Homo sapiens: one gene and its partner. The protein of the gene in region 2 interacts with the protein of the main gene of each other region in a pairwise test. Each region holds a gene or a part of one and is shown on either strand. Other genes may lie near its edges.

Region 1 (7,027 bases), on a different chromosome or scaffold from region 2:
CTGAGACAGAGTCTCACTCTGTCGCCCAGGCTAGAGTGTAGTGGCGCGATCTCGATCTCTGCTCACTGCAACCTCCGCCTCCTGGGTTCAAGCGATTCTTCTGCCTCAGCCTTCCAAGTAGCTGGGACTACAGGTGTGTACCACCATGCCTGGCTAATTTTTGTATTTTTAGTAGAGACGGGATTTCCCCATTTTGGCCAGGCTGGTCTGGAACTCCTGGCCTCAGATGATCGACCTGCCTTGGCCTCCCCAAAGTGTTGGGATTACAGGCGTGAGCCACCGCACCTGGCCAATTTAGCCTTATTATAGCATCATGTCTTAGCCACTAGCTCGAGTTAACTAACCCAACACTCATTTTATTGTGTGGAAATGTAATTTTTGCCTATAAAGTAGAAAAAAATCTGTTTATCATGTGTAATAAGTGTTTTTGCTCAGTGTTCTTTTTTTTTTTTTTTTTTTGACACAGAGTTTCACTCTGTCGCCCAGGCTGGAGTGCAGTGGCGCGATCTCAGCTCACTGCAACCTTCGTCCCCCGGGTTCAAGTGATTGTCCTGCCTCAGCCTCCCGAGTAGCTGGGATTACAGGCACGTGCCAACACGCCCAGCTAATTTTTGTATTTTTGGTAGAGATGGGGTTTTGCCATGTTGGCCAGGCTAGTCTCAAACTCCTGACCCCAGATGACCCACCCACCTCGGCCTCCCAAAGTGCTAGGATTACAGGCGTGAGCCACCGTGCCTGGCCCCCTAAGAGTCATTTTTAATAAAAATTTAGATAGTTTCATTATTCTAACCTCTAGAAAATGGGATAGTCAATATTTTTTCTAAAATATGATAAACAGGTATAACTACAGTTTGCTGATATTTATCAGATCAATTTTATTTCTTGCCTATACAAAGGATTTAGTAGTTGGTAGAGACTTTTTTTTGAGATACATGTAAGACCTGCGTTTTTCTTCATTTATTAATATACACACCTAGGCCGGGCACGGTGGCCCACGCCTGTAATCCCAGCACTTTGGGAGGCCGAGGCAGGCACATCACGAGATCAGGAGATCCAGACCATCCTGGCCAACATGGTGAAACCGCGTATCTACTAAAAATACAAAAATTAGCTGGCTATGGTGGCGTGTGCCTGTAGTCCCAGCTACTTGGGAGGCTGAGATGGGAGAATCACTTGAACCTGGGAAGCGGAGGTTGCAGTGAGCCAAGATCATGCCATTGCACTCCAGCCTGGGCGACAGAGCAAGACTCTGTCTCAAAAAAACAAAAATTACACATATAATGCCTAATATGTTTGAAGGTGTCCAGGAATTAAAAATGTTTTGGTTAACTTGGAATCTACGTTTTTACAAATAGAAGAATTTTTATTACAATATAGTTGTCTTAATGTTTTGGTAGATGAAATAACTCCCTATTTGTTACTTCCCTGAAATCTGAAAAGCCAACTTGTTGATATGTACGTTTTTCTTTTTGTTAGATAAAAGTTACTGATTTTTGTGAGTGACAGTTCACATAGATGCATAGTAAAATCTTATTGTTTGGATTAAGAGTAGAATCATCCCATAATATGGATTTATTCAAAAGAGAAGAAATTAAGAACTTACCTTAAATTTTTACCTGAAATATTTTTGAACAATAGGAGACATATTAGTAGCTTTCCTTTTCTTCTCTTAATCAATGTGGATACTCCCAGAGTTCACTAAAAACTTCATGAGAGGTTTACAAGGGAATATTATCAGTCAGTTTCATCAAAAGTAATTACCAAAATGATACAAAGATTTAAAATTTTTATTTAATAAAAATCATTAGAATACATGCTCATTGTTGAAAAATTATTGGAGAATACAAGTAGGTATTATGAAAGAAATGGAAAATTGCCCGATCATCTTGAATATATATCTGGTACTCATACTTTTAAATATTTTTTGTATGCACAACTATATATCAATATTTTTGTAGAAATGGGTTTATGTTCTATATTCTGTACCTTTAAAAGAACCTTTTAAGGATGCTGGGCTTGACTTTTTTTTAAATGGATGTCATATACTATATTGGGAGGAGGTTGGTTATATTTATAGGTCGAGTTCTGTATGTTCTTGCAAATGGGAGAATCTTAGAATACCTAGAATGAAGGAGAAAGAGGTCAGTTGAGAGTAAGGAGACTGAGTAGAATTTGGGAGACTGAATTCCCCATAGATTAAGATGACTCAACTCATTTGAAATTGATCAAGGCTTACCATTCCTCAAGAAATTAGTCCCTAACTCTCAGCAGAGACATTTGGTGAATAGATTTTCAGTGACAAATCAGTCATCTTCAAGACCTTTGACAAGATTGCAAAAACAGGCTAATTTATATTTGAGCCCCTTGCTCTTTTAAACATTTTGTCATTTGTACACTTCCTACACCTTCTTGTCCAAGGAACTTAAGTGACCTCATAATTTCCGTTATTGATCCAGGAAATCCAGTCTCACCTCATTTCACCCTTCCTTGAAGAGCTTCCTGGTTCAAAATTGCTCTTTACCAAAATAATTAATTAATAAACTGTTCATTTATTTTTTCTTTTCTTTTTTCTTTCTTTTTTTTTTTTTTTGAGATGGAGTCTCACTCCTTTGCCCAGGTTAGAGTGCAGTGGCGTGATCTTCGCTCACTACAACCTCCGGCTCCTGGGTTCAAGCAATTCTCCTGCTTCAGCCTCCTGAGTAGTTGGGACTACAGGCATGTGTCAGCATACCCAGCTAATTTTTGTATTTTTAGTAAAGACAGGGTTTCTCCATGTTGGCCAGGCTGGTCTCGAATTCCTGACCTCAAGTGATCCACCCGCCTTGGCCTTCCACAGTGCTGGGATTACAGGTGTGAGCCATCGTGCCCAGCCTCATTTACTTTTTCTTCTTACCTTGGTATGGGTAATGTGAGAATGTATGATAGGTTTACTTTATTTAGAGTCATCTTTTCTCACCCAGAGAATAATATATAAACCAAATTGGTTTACTTATGTGTAAAATATGTAGTAGAGATATTTTTGAGCATGAGGTGCTTTTGGTGTTACTTTTTCTTTTAAAATGCAGGGAATTTAATAGTATGCAGTTTCAGGGTGTGTAAGGTAATCTTTTGGTGGATGAAATATATTTGGTGGATGAATATGCTGTGATTTGCTTACACCCACCCCAAATCCATTTTGCAGCACCCTACTCACTGTCCAGAGATTCTGGGAAAAAAACAATAGAGAAGACAAAGCCAGTCTAGACACCATTTGACTCTACCTTGTGAATATTCTGAAAGTTACATTAGGCTAGTTGTAGATTTTTTTTTTTTTTGAGACAGAGTCTCTGTCGCCCAGGCTGGAGTACAGTGGTGCGATCTCAGCTTACTGCAACCTCTGCCTCCTGGGTTCAAGCAATTCTCCTGTCTCAGCTTCCTGAGTAGCTGGGATTACAGGTGCACGCCACCACGCCTGGCTAATTTTTGTATTTTTAGTAGAGACGGGGTTTCACCGTATTGGCCAGGCTGGTCTCGAGATCCTGACCTTAGGTGATCCGCCCGCCTCGGCCTCCCAAAGTGCTGGGATTACAGCGTAAGCCACCGTGCCTGGCCTAGTTGTAGACTTTTGATAGCTTATGGTTGAATTTTTATGGGATTGGTTAATAGATTGGATTCATGAGGTAGCATGTAGGGCAACACATTCTATTTTGGATTTTTCATTTACTTTGTGTTTCCTTCCAGATACGAAGCTCCTAGAAGATGGAGTCATTTCTTAAAAATTTCTATATTTTCCCATTAGCCGTAGGATGTTCTCCATATACTAGCCACTCATTAAATAGTTGCTGAATGTAAGAAATACAGACTTGAATATGCAAGAGCCTATGCACTGAATTATTTTTATTTTATTACTTTATTTTATTTTATTTTTTGAGACAGGGTCTCACTCTGTCACTCAGGCTGGAGTGTAGTAGCACGATTATGGGTCACTGCAGCTTGCACTCCCAAGCTCAAACAGTCTTCACACTTCAGCTCCCAAAGTAGCTGGGACTACAGGCTTGTGCCACCATGCCCAGCTAATTTTTTTTGTTGTTGTTGTTAGAAATGGGATCTCACTATGTTGCTCCGGCTGGTCTTGGAACACCTGGGCTCAAGCAATTCTCCTGCCTTGGCTTCCCAAAGTGCTGGGATTACACCTGTCAGCCGCCATGCCTGGCCTTGAATTATTTTATAAGTAGGATATAATTACATGTAAATTTACCTTGCAAGTTTTTTCCTATTTGATTTTTTGGTGACATTTATGTTCTGTAAAGTTTTGCAGTACTTTTCATATTTGCATAATTCATGCAAGGAACATAGTTTTGCTTTTTTCTTCTTAAGTAATATACTTTGTAGAAAATTTGGATGAGGTAACAGCTTTGTTTTGAATCATTTACAACATGAATTTTTTCTCATTTGATTTTTAAAGTCAGGTTTATTGAGTTTTAATACATATATGGTACAAGTCACCCTTTTTAGGTGTAAAGGTTTATGAATTACAATAAACTTACATAGTCATGTAACCACCACAATGTAAAATTTTCCTTGTACCCTCTGTAGTCAGTCCTGTCCCTCCACTACTAGCCTTTGGTAAACACTGATATATTTTCTGTCCCTCTAGTTTTTGCCTTTTCCAGAATGCCATATAAGGGGCATTATGTAGTATATAGCCTTTTGTGTTTGACTTCTTGGTACTAGAAGTCCTAATACATTTGAAAATCATCAGTGTTATTGTGTTTTGTCAGTACTTTGTTCCTTCTTATTACTGAGTAATATTCTAGAGTATGAAAGAATCATAATTTGTTCATCCATTCACCAACTGATGGATTTCTGGATTGTTTCTAGTTTTAGGCAGTGGTGAATATGGCTGTAAACATTTGTATACAGGTGTTGGTGCAACCTAAGTCTTCACTCTTTTGGGTAAATTTAAGGGAAAAGATCAACTGTTGTACCCTGGTAACAGTGGATGTATCCACATAGGCTGCATAGGCCAGTGCTTGAACTGCATCTGATCTGAATCTTGGCCGAGCACTTTGTGATCCTCTTGGAATATAAGATTATGGAAGTTTGCGAGGACCTTATGTGAAGCCCTTTCTCAATCTCTTCATCTGCCGAGGAGGCTGTACGTGATAACAGTGCCTCATCACCTCCTAGTTCCCATGAGATGAGGCTCTCTATTGTACCCTTTTAGGTAGTAGCTGCAGGCTGTAAGACTTTAGTTGCAGCATGGCATTGGCTCCTCCGCAACAGAGTGTCATATCTATGTTGTAGTCACCTGGCTCCTTTTGTTTTAGTATTGCTTTACACAAGGGCTGTATCTTTTACTACTATTCCTTCTGCCCTCCATGTAAATGGTAGGCTTTCTGAACCTAACAAGCAGTTGGGCAGGTCTATCACATTGCCTTCTCTTTGCCTTGACAATAAATATCTAATAGTGGGATTATTACCGTATGGTAAATGTGTGTTTAGTTTTATACAAATTGCCAAACTCTTTTCCAAAAACGATGGTACCGTTTTGCGTTCCCACCAGCAAAGATCCAGTTGTTCTTCATCTTTGTCAGCATTTGGTTTTGTCAGGTTTTAAAATTTTAGCTATTCTCTTGTTAGTGATGTCTCAAAGGCCATATATGACAAGCCTACAACTAACATCATACTCAACCATGAAAAGTTGAAACCTTTTCCTCTAAGATCAGGAATAAGACAGTGGTGCCCAGTGTCACTAGTTCTATTTAATCAAGTACTGCAAAGTACTAGAAGTCCTAGCCAGCCAGTTAGGAAAGAAAAATAAACAAAAGGCATCAAAATTGGAAGAAGTTAAATTGTCTCTGTTTGCAAATGACATGATTCCTTATGTATACAAAACCCTAAAGACTCCACCAAAAGACTGTTAGAATTAATTAACGAATTTAGTAAAGTTGTAGGAGACAAGATCAACATACAAAAATCTGTTGTGTTTCTACATATTAACTACAAACGATCTGAAAAATTAAGAAAACATTTCCATTTATAACAGCAGAAAGAATAGAATACTTAGGAATAAATGTAATCAAGGAGGTGAAAGGTCTGTACACTAAAAACTATAAGACATTTATGAAAGTAATTGAAGAACATGCAAATAAATGGGAAGATATCCCGTGCTCATGAATTGGTAGATTTGATATTGTTAACATGTCCATACTACACAAAGCCATCTACAGATTTAATGCAATCTCTATCAATATTCCAATGGTATTTTTCACAAAAATAGAAAAACCCTAAAATTCATAGGAAACCACAAAATACTTTGAATAGCCAAAGCAGTTTTGAATAAGAACAAAGTTGGAGGTATCATACTTCCTGATTTCAAACTATATTACAAAGCTATAGGCCTGGCATGGTGGTTCATGCTTGTTATCCCAGCAGTTTGGGAGGCCTAGGTAGCCAGATCACCTGAGGTCAGGAGTTCAAGACCAGCCTGGCCAGCGTGGAGAAACCTCATCTCTACTAAAAATACAAAAATTATAGGGCATGCTGGCACACGCCTGTAGTCCCAGCTACTCAGGAGGCTGAGTTGGGAGAATCGCTTGAACCCAGGAAGTGGAGGTTGCAGTGAGCTGAGATCATGCCACTGCACTCCATCCTGGGCAACAGAGCGAGACTCTGTCTCAAAAAAAGCTATAGTAATCAAAACAGTGTGTTACTGGCATAAAAGACATGTAGACTAATGGAACAGAATGGAGCCCGGAAATGTAGCCACATCTGTGCAGTCAACTAAGCTTTGATAAAGGCACCAGGTACACAATGGGGAAAGGATAATTCAGTAAATGGTATTGGGAAAACTATATCCACATGCAAAAGAATGAAATTTGATTGTTATATCACACATACAAATTAGCTAGAAATGGATTAAAGACTTAAATGTAAGATCTGAAATTATAAAACTCTTTGGTATGGGTCAGATGTTTGTTCCCTTCAAATCTCTTGTTGAAATGTGATTCCCAGTGTTGGAGGTGGGTCTTGGTGGGAGATAATT
Region 2 (7,257 bases):
AAAGAAAGTATTTTTAATCAATAGTTGATGCTATTAACTATATTTTAATAAAAGAAGCAATGTCCATGGGTGTAAACATTTAGGTTTAAATAGATAAATACATTCAAAACACATTTGAAATATTTTCTGAGAGCTTTTTATATGACATTTTTATCCACAGTGCAGTGTTTCAGAAAACTGTAATACTGCAAGGAATGCTTTCCTAAACATGGTTTCACATGAGAGATCTACCATCAATTGCTGAGAATAGTTTTGAGCAATCATAAAAGAGCTGCACCATAATACAAATTTTTTTACATACAGTATCCATCTATAATGCTCATTGTATTAGACAAAACCGGCACTTTGTCACCACCAAGCAGAGCAAAGCTTTCCAAATATACTGCTTATATGAATTATCGCTATAGAAGAGCTGAAAACTAAAGTAAGCTTTTTAAAAATAAGAGTATTGTCTTCATAATCTCTACAGAAATTTTCTCAAACTTTTTTGAAAATATGGTCCCATAACAGTGCAACTAATATTTCACATGGCAATATAAAGTTTATGAGTTTTTGGATCCAATTGTATGCTTCTCACTGGGTAGAAAAGTTGTCTTTCCTTTTCTACTACACAGCTTGTTACTGGAATAATAATAGAAAATCATCATTTTAGAGAATTCAATTTTCTCTGGTACTTTAAAGAAAACAAAATTAGAAAGTTGTGACAATAGCTAAATTAGGAAGATGAAAAACTCATATTAAAAACTGAGTACATACGGACAGGAAGAGGTGAACAACACACACCTGGGCCTACTTGAGGTTGGAGGGTAGGAGGAAGGTGAGGATGGAAAACCACCCATCAGGTACGATGCTTATAATCTGGGTGACAAAATAATCTGTATACCAAACCCCTGTGACACGCAATTTATCTATATAACGAACCTGCACATGTACCCCCAAACATAAAGTAAAAGCTAAAAAAAAACCTGATATATGACTTAATGTGTGTACACTGAAAGGAACGAATAGAGCTGTTTCTCCTCCAATGTCCTCTAATATCCCCCAAACAATTAAATTTCCACGTGTATGAAAGAAAAGCCACCCCTCTTGCTTCACCATTATTAGAAGCATTCTCACATTCCACATCAACAATTAAAAAAGTAAGTAAGAAAAATTATTAAACAGATTACATTAAATGCTATATATGAGAAGAAGGCATTTAAGACAGTCTTGTCATCCACTAATTCATATAACCTACTGTAAGGGTTGTATGGTTGAAAACAATTTTCATAAACCACAAATAGCTCGTAAAACATACCTGCAATATCTTCTAGCTCCTTGGTATCAACCCTGTAACAAAAAGTTGCAACACAATTTTAACATAATGCTACACAAAAGGCCTTGTTTGTTGGGAAGAAATGTCTTGTGTGAAATGTTCTGCATAGAACATAACAGTGATGACATGATCCAAAGCTGACTTTTCCTAAAAGACCTTATCTGACAGGCAAAAGGGACTTAAACACTTTACCCCGTGTGTTCATCTGTTTCAGCAAAAGATCCTCTTTCCCCATGCTCATCAGTTACATCTCCCTCCTTTGTCTCTGTAACAGGTTTTCTTTCCTCATGCTCATGACTTACTGGATCCTTTCCTGCATTAAAATAAAAAAGACAAACCTTTTTTAGAGGAAGACGCTGTTGTGGACATTTTTCATAGAGAAACGTACTATTTGTAGACTTTTTTGGCTCTCCGCCAATTAAAGCTTTACCGCAGAGCTATACATGGAATCGCCGGCTCCTAACCATTTTACGGAGGCATTTTTGGAAGCCCTTCGGGTTCAAGTCCCAGTAAACAACGTTCACAGGTCAGATCCCTTGGATGTCAGGACCGCATCCATGGAGAAGAGCTGCTCTGAGAGCATCTGTAACCCTGCTATGAGGGGGAGCCTCCCACGGGAAGCCTAAGGCCCTTGAGCCTGCTTTGAAAACCTGGGGCATCTCAGCACATGCACGGTGAGCTCCAAAGCCACGAAGGGGCCGGGGGCCTCGGGCTGCCCATGTGCGCCCCGCCCAGAAAGCAGACAGACTGTTGGGCGTGCACCTTCTTCTAGGTCCCCTTGGGCTGTGTTTACCTGCAAGCTCCATTTCCTGGGCGGCCATAACTTGAACCTCCAACTGGTCCTTGGCAGCCATCCTGCTGCCCTTCCTGCCCACGGGCTCCGTGGCTGACTGGCCTGGGAAGCTAGAGGCGACCTCTGAACCTGGTGAGTGCAAAGACACACTAAGGACACTAAGGAAACGAGGCGTGTTAAATGAAAATCATCAGGATCGCAGGTTCAAGGGCGCCCCGGGTCTCCCGTGGGAGCAGGAGGGGACGCGGAGAAGATGCCATCATCCCCTCCTGTCCTGGCCCGTCCAGCGCTTCCCCGGGGCTGGCTGCAGAGCTCGCAGAATTCCGCGGCCTCTGCGGGATTCTTGCAGTGCCCTTGGGACAGAGCCTGGCCCTGCCCCTGGGTTCCCCAGCGACCCAGTGGAGTCGGGAGGGCCGCGGGGTGACACAGGATCTCCCCAGCCATCTCCATGGGAATGAGCCGGTACGCACCTGTTTCTGACAGGGGCAGGGACTGCCCATTCGCCAGCCTGGACGCCCAGGGGACCCCTGGTGACCCCAAGTATCCCGTCCTGATGGGCAGCCAGACAAGACGGACCCACGTTGACCCCCCGACCCCCCCCCAAACGCTGCACACATGCACAGGCCTCCGGGACCCTCCTGGGTCCTGGGGACCACTCAGGCAGCTCCAACTCCCTGCCCTGACCCAGGCCCCAGGCGACAATGCCTGGGCCATTTCCTCACAGATCAGCCTGGCTGCCCCGCCCTTCACACCCTCTTCCCCAAAGGGCCTCTGGCCCGCCTTCCCCGCATCCCCACCGAGGGCGTCTCACCTGAGGGAGCCCTGATGTTGCTCCCTCAGAGGACCTGCAGAGGCTGGCACCGCGAAGCTCCTCCGAGGGCCTGGGTCCTCTGTTCTCACGAGAGCAGCAGCCGCCCCGGCTGCCCGCGCTCCTCGCTGATTGGTCGGCCCAGTGCGCATGCAGGTGGCGGGCGGCATGGGGCCACGCCCCCTGCAGGCACACCCTCCCCCTCACGGACTGTCCATGGCTGCTGTGGACTCATTGGGTGGCTCTCTGAGGCCTCTGTCCCCACGATATTCCAGCTCCTCATCCTGGTGAAGGAAGCAAGGACTCGGGAGTGGTGAGTGCCAGGGGACCCTGCCCTAAGGAATGGAGGCCAAGTGAACGGGGCCTAGGACCTTGCCCCCAGGCTCGTTCCAGCCACTCCTGCCCCTTTGGGTGGAATGGCCATCACCCTGCGGGTGGAGCCCAGGCTCCCTCCCATGTCCTGTGTGCTTCCAACACGCCCAGCTGCATCCTTTTTATCAATGGATTGTGCTTTTATGTTTTATCTAAGAAAATTGTTGACTCCCAGCAGGGGCAGGTAGTTTTCTCCTATCCTACTCCATTCCCTCACACTGGGCATTGCATGATTCTGCAGTGGATATACAAAGTTAAAGACTTTATGTCTAGATTTCTCATGATGTGGTCATTTCTTTTCTTTCATTTTTCTTTTTTCTTTTTTTTTTTTTTTTTGACAGGGTCTTGCTCTGTCACCCAGGCTGGGCTGCAATGGTGTAATCACTACTCACTGTAGCCTCAACTGCCCGCGCTCAAGGGATCCTCCCACCACAGCCTCCCAAGTAGCTGGGACTACAGGCATGTCCCACCATGCCCAGCTAATTTTATTTTATTTATTTATTTATTTTTAGAGACAGAGTCTTACTCTGTCCCCAGGCTGGAGTGCAGTGGCACGATCTCGGCTTCCTGCAACCTCTGCCTCCCTGGTTCAAGCAATTCTCCTGCCTCAGCCTCCCAAGTAGCTGGGACTATAGGCGCACGCCGCCACGCCTGGCTGATTTTTTTTTTTTTTTTTTTGTATTTTAGTAGAGACAGGGTTTCACCGTGTTGCCCAGGCTGGTCTCGAACTCCTGAGCTCAGTCAGTCTGCCCGCCTCAGCCTCCCAAAGTGCTAGGATTACAGGCATGAACCACCGCTCCTGGCCAATTTTGTTTATTTTTTGCAGAGATGAGGTCTCACTATGTTGCCCAGGCTGGTCTGCAACTCCTGGGCTCAAGCGATCCGCCCGCCTCAGCCTCCTAAAGTGCTGGGGTTACAGGCTTGAGCCATCGTGCCCAGCCCGATTATTTCCACAGCTGGGTTGGAAGCCATCTTTCCCTGACAAGGCAGCTCACCTTTATATCTAAGAGTTCTCTATAACCTAAAGAGAATCCCTAATTACTGACACTAAATACCACCAGCTGTCCCCATTTCCCCACAATCTACTTGGTACCCAAATTAGCCAATGAGACATCTTGGGGAATTTTAAGCCATGATTGCTTCAGGTTTCTCTCTCTTTCGAGCTTAAGATGTGTAACATTAAGAAAGAAGACAAATCTTGCAGAGGGCTTTGTGCAACCAGTCTTACAGCTTTCTATCCCATCTGGATCAATGTAATTTTCATATGCTTCATCAAAGATTTCAGCTGAAAGTACTATACCAGGTTCTGTCTATAATTGGAAACACATACACACATACACCAACTACTGGTATTCAGCTAAGAATTCAATGCTGGCTCATTTTTCTTTAAAAGAATGTCAAATCAAGGAACAATTCTCCATCACAAAGTGGAATTTGATGTCAGGTGAAGACAAATGGGGATTACAGAGCTACTTCTTTGGCATAACAGCCTAGAAACAAACTGAAAAGGATTCTGCAATTTTAAATAGGCACAAAGACATTCTTTTCAGAACACCAAGTGTCCAAGTTACAAAACCCTGAAGAAATTCTTTTAAACTTTGGATGGAGCAATTTATCTCTTTTTCCCAACTGGAGTATTTGTGAGATGTCTCCCAGAAAGAAACAACTCAATACACAAATCATTAAGCCTTTGTAAAGGGAGGAAGTCTATTTGAAGCAACTCTGGGTTGCGGAAACAGGTTTTGTGAACTAACCAAAGCCTTTAGGGCAAACATGGTCACTTCAATTTTTTTTTTTTCCCACTAGAGGTTATCTACAAAGACCACAGGAAATGTTTAAGCAAATTTAAAGGAGATTTCTCAAGAGTTATTAGAATAAGTACTTTAATTTAGAGAATTGGTTTCTAATAACTGGAGGTGTAACCCCCTCCTACCCCCAACACCCTACTCCACCCTATGTGAATTGACTGACAAGTAAGGATAATGCTTCATAACAAATGTAGAAATAACACCAATTTTCAAAGCAGCCCTCACTCTTCTATTGCTGTCATTAAGAACTAACTGAAAGAAATGCACTGCTTGGATTCATAGACAGACAGAGGGACAAACAGATGGCTAGATATGTGATAAGCAACAACAGTATGGCCAGATGTCAATGATAGAATCTAGGTGATGGGAACATGAATGTTTTCCATGAAATTCTTTCAACTTTTCTGTGTATTTGAAATTTCTAATAATAAAATGTTGGAAAACAACATGTATGCTGTGCATACATGTAGAGACATAGGCTCAGACCCTCTCATCAAATGGCAACAACAATTGTTCATTTTGAAAACATCTAGAAATCTAAGATGTGATCACTGGGTTAAAGACTGTATACATCCATACTCTGTAGCCTGAATTAGTGATTTACGCTCTAATAGCCAATCAAATTGCTCATTTATCAGACAGGGCTGGTAGCACAGGAGATGGAAGTTTCTCTGCTGATAATCCTCCAGACGTTTGAGGGCTTCATGTTCATTCACATTTCAGCCTTTTCTCCAATTCTTAGACTCTTAGCAAAAGTTTATACTCGAATGAAGCAGCAAATTCTAGGCTCCAGCTGTTTAAGAATGAATGAAAACATTCATGTCTTTCAGAAAGGCTTATCTGATGTACTCTGCACAAATACCCTCACCTATGATCTTCTCTGTGCAAACTCTATCAGGGCCCTTCTCAGTGGGCTTTTCAAGACTCTCTCCAATTAGATTATAATTCCTTCAAGGGCAGGTCTTTGTCAACTTTGCTTCTCCAGCACTCAGCGCCATGGCTGGCACATGGTGGGCCGTCAGCAAATGCTGTGTTTGCTATACGTGAATTAATGCTGTGCATACATGTAGAGACATAGGCTCAGACCCTCTCATCAAATGGCAAAGTCTACCACCCAGTCCTGAGAATTACATCTCAGCTTAGAGCAGAGGGGCCCCACCCTGGCGTCTCCTGGAATCACTCAGGAAATTTCAAAACACACTGCTGCCTCCATCCTACCCACTAAGTTTCTGATTAACTGTGTTGGAGTTTGGCCTGGGCCTCAGGACGGTGAAATCTCCCCAGATGATAGAAAAGTGCAGGCAGCACTGAGAATTCCAGGGTTTGGACTTTACAAGCCACCAGGTAATTTCATTTTCACTCACCTTCTTTCCTTTGATTCTCAGGACAAGCTACCAGGTCTCCAGGACTGAAGGTTATCATCTAAGTTGGTGTTCTCAACTGGAGGCGATTTACCCCCCACCCAGGAGACAGTTGGCAATGTCTGGAGGTATTTTTGGTTTTTATAGCTGGGGATGGGGGTGCTACTGGAATCTTGTGGGTAGAAGCCAGGGATGCTGCTAAACATCCTACAATGCACAGGACAGCCCCACCACAAAGAATTATCTGGCTCCCAATGCCAACAGTGTTGAGATTGACACACCGTGGTCTATGGTAACTGTTTGATTAGCTAGGGCTTTCTTAGCTAGAGTAATCTCCTTTTTGCACTCTGTGCCCATGCCCTGAGTAAGACAGACAACTGCACAACAATTTATCCCAGAGTACATCTGAGTCAACTGTTGATGTTACATGTTGGATTGGCTCCAGCAAATGAAGAGCTGACATTCAATGAGTGTTCCCTTTGTGCCAGGCACATTATATACATGGCCATATGTTCCTCCCAGCAATCTGGGAGAGGAGAGAGATTCTAAATTTGAAAACTAAACTCATTATACAAGGTCATGCATTTAATTAAGAGTTTGAACCTTTAACAACAAGCCCAAGACAAGGAGTTGCCTCAGATCCTTAATAGGTTGCCTTAATATAAAATTAATAATGCCCTATGTTTCTCAAAACCCCTTGTTTGAGAAACTCAAGCCTAACACATTGTTCATCTTTCCTGCTCTTGCAGAATGGAATTGATGTGCCATACAAGCCTAATCATTAACAAGACATACCAGTA

What was found. Proteins that work in one complex are often made in the same cells at the same time.
Region 1: the proteins of FAM9C (region 2) and ABI2 interact in binary tests that used the Homo sapiens proteins (3 or more experiments, as listed by UniProt).

The regions. Positions count from the first base shown.
Region 1 is NC_000002.12:203,331,369-203,338,395, forward strand, and holds part of ABI2 (abl interactor 2), read left to right. Parts: intron 1-7,027. UniProt on the Homo sapiens protein: Regulator of actin cytoskeleton dynamics underlying cell motility and adhesion. Functions as a component of the WAVE complex, which activates actin nucleating machinery Arp2/3 to drive lamellipodia formation.
Region 2 is NC_000023.11:13,041,621-13,048,877, forward strand, and holds the start of FAM9C (protein FAM9C), read right to left. Parts: upstream 3,001-7,257; 5' UTR 2,920-3,000; exon of another isoform or gene 2,823-2,919; coding exon of another isoform or gene 2,579-2,822; intron 2,238-2,578; coding exon of another isoform or gene 2,170-2,237; coding exon 2,109-2,169; intron 1,629-2,108; coding exon 1,508-1,628; intron 1,330-1,507; coding exon 1,298-1,329; intron 1-1,297.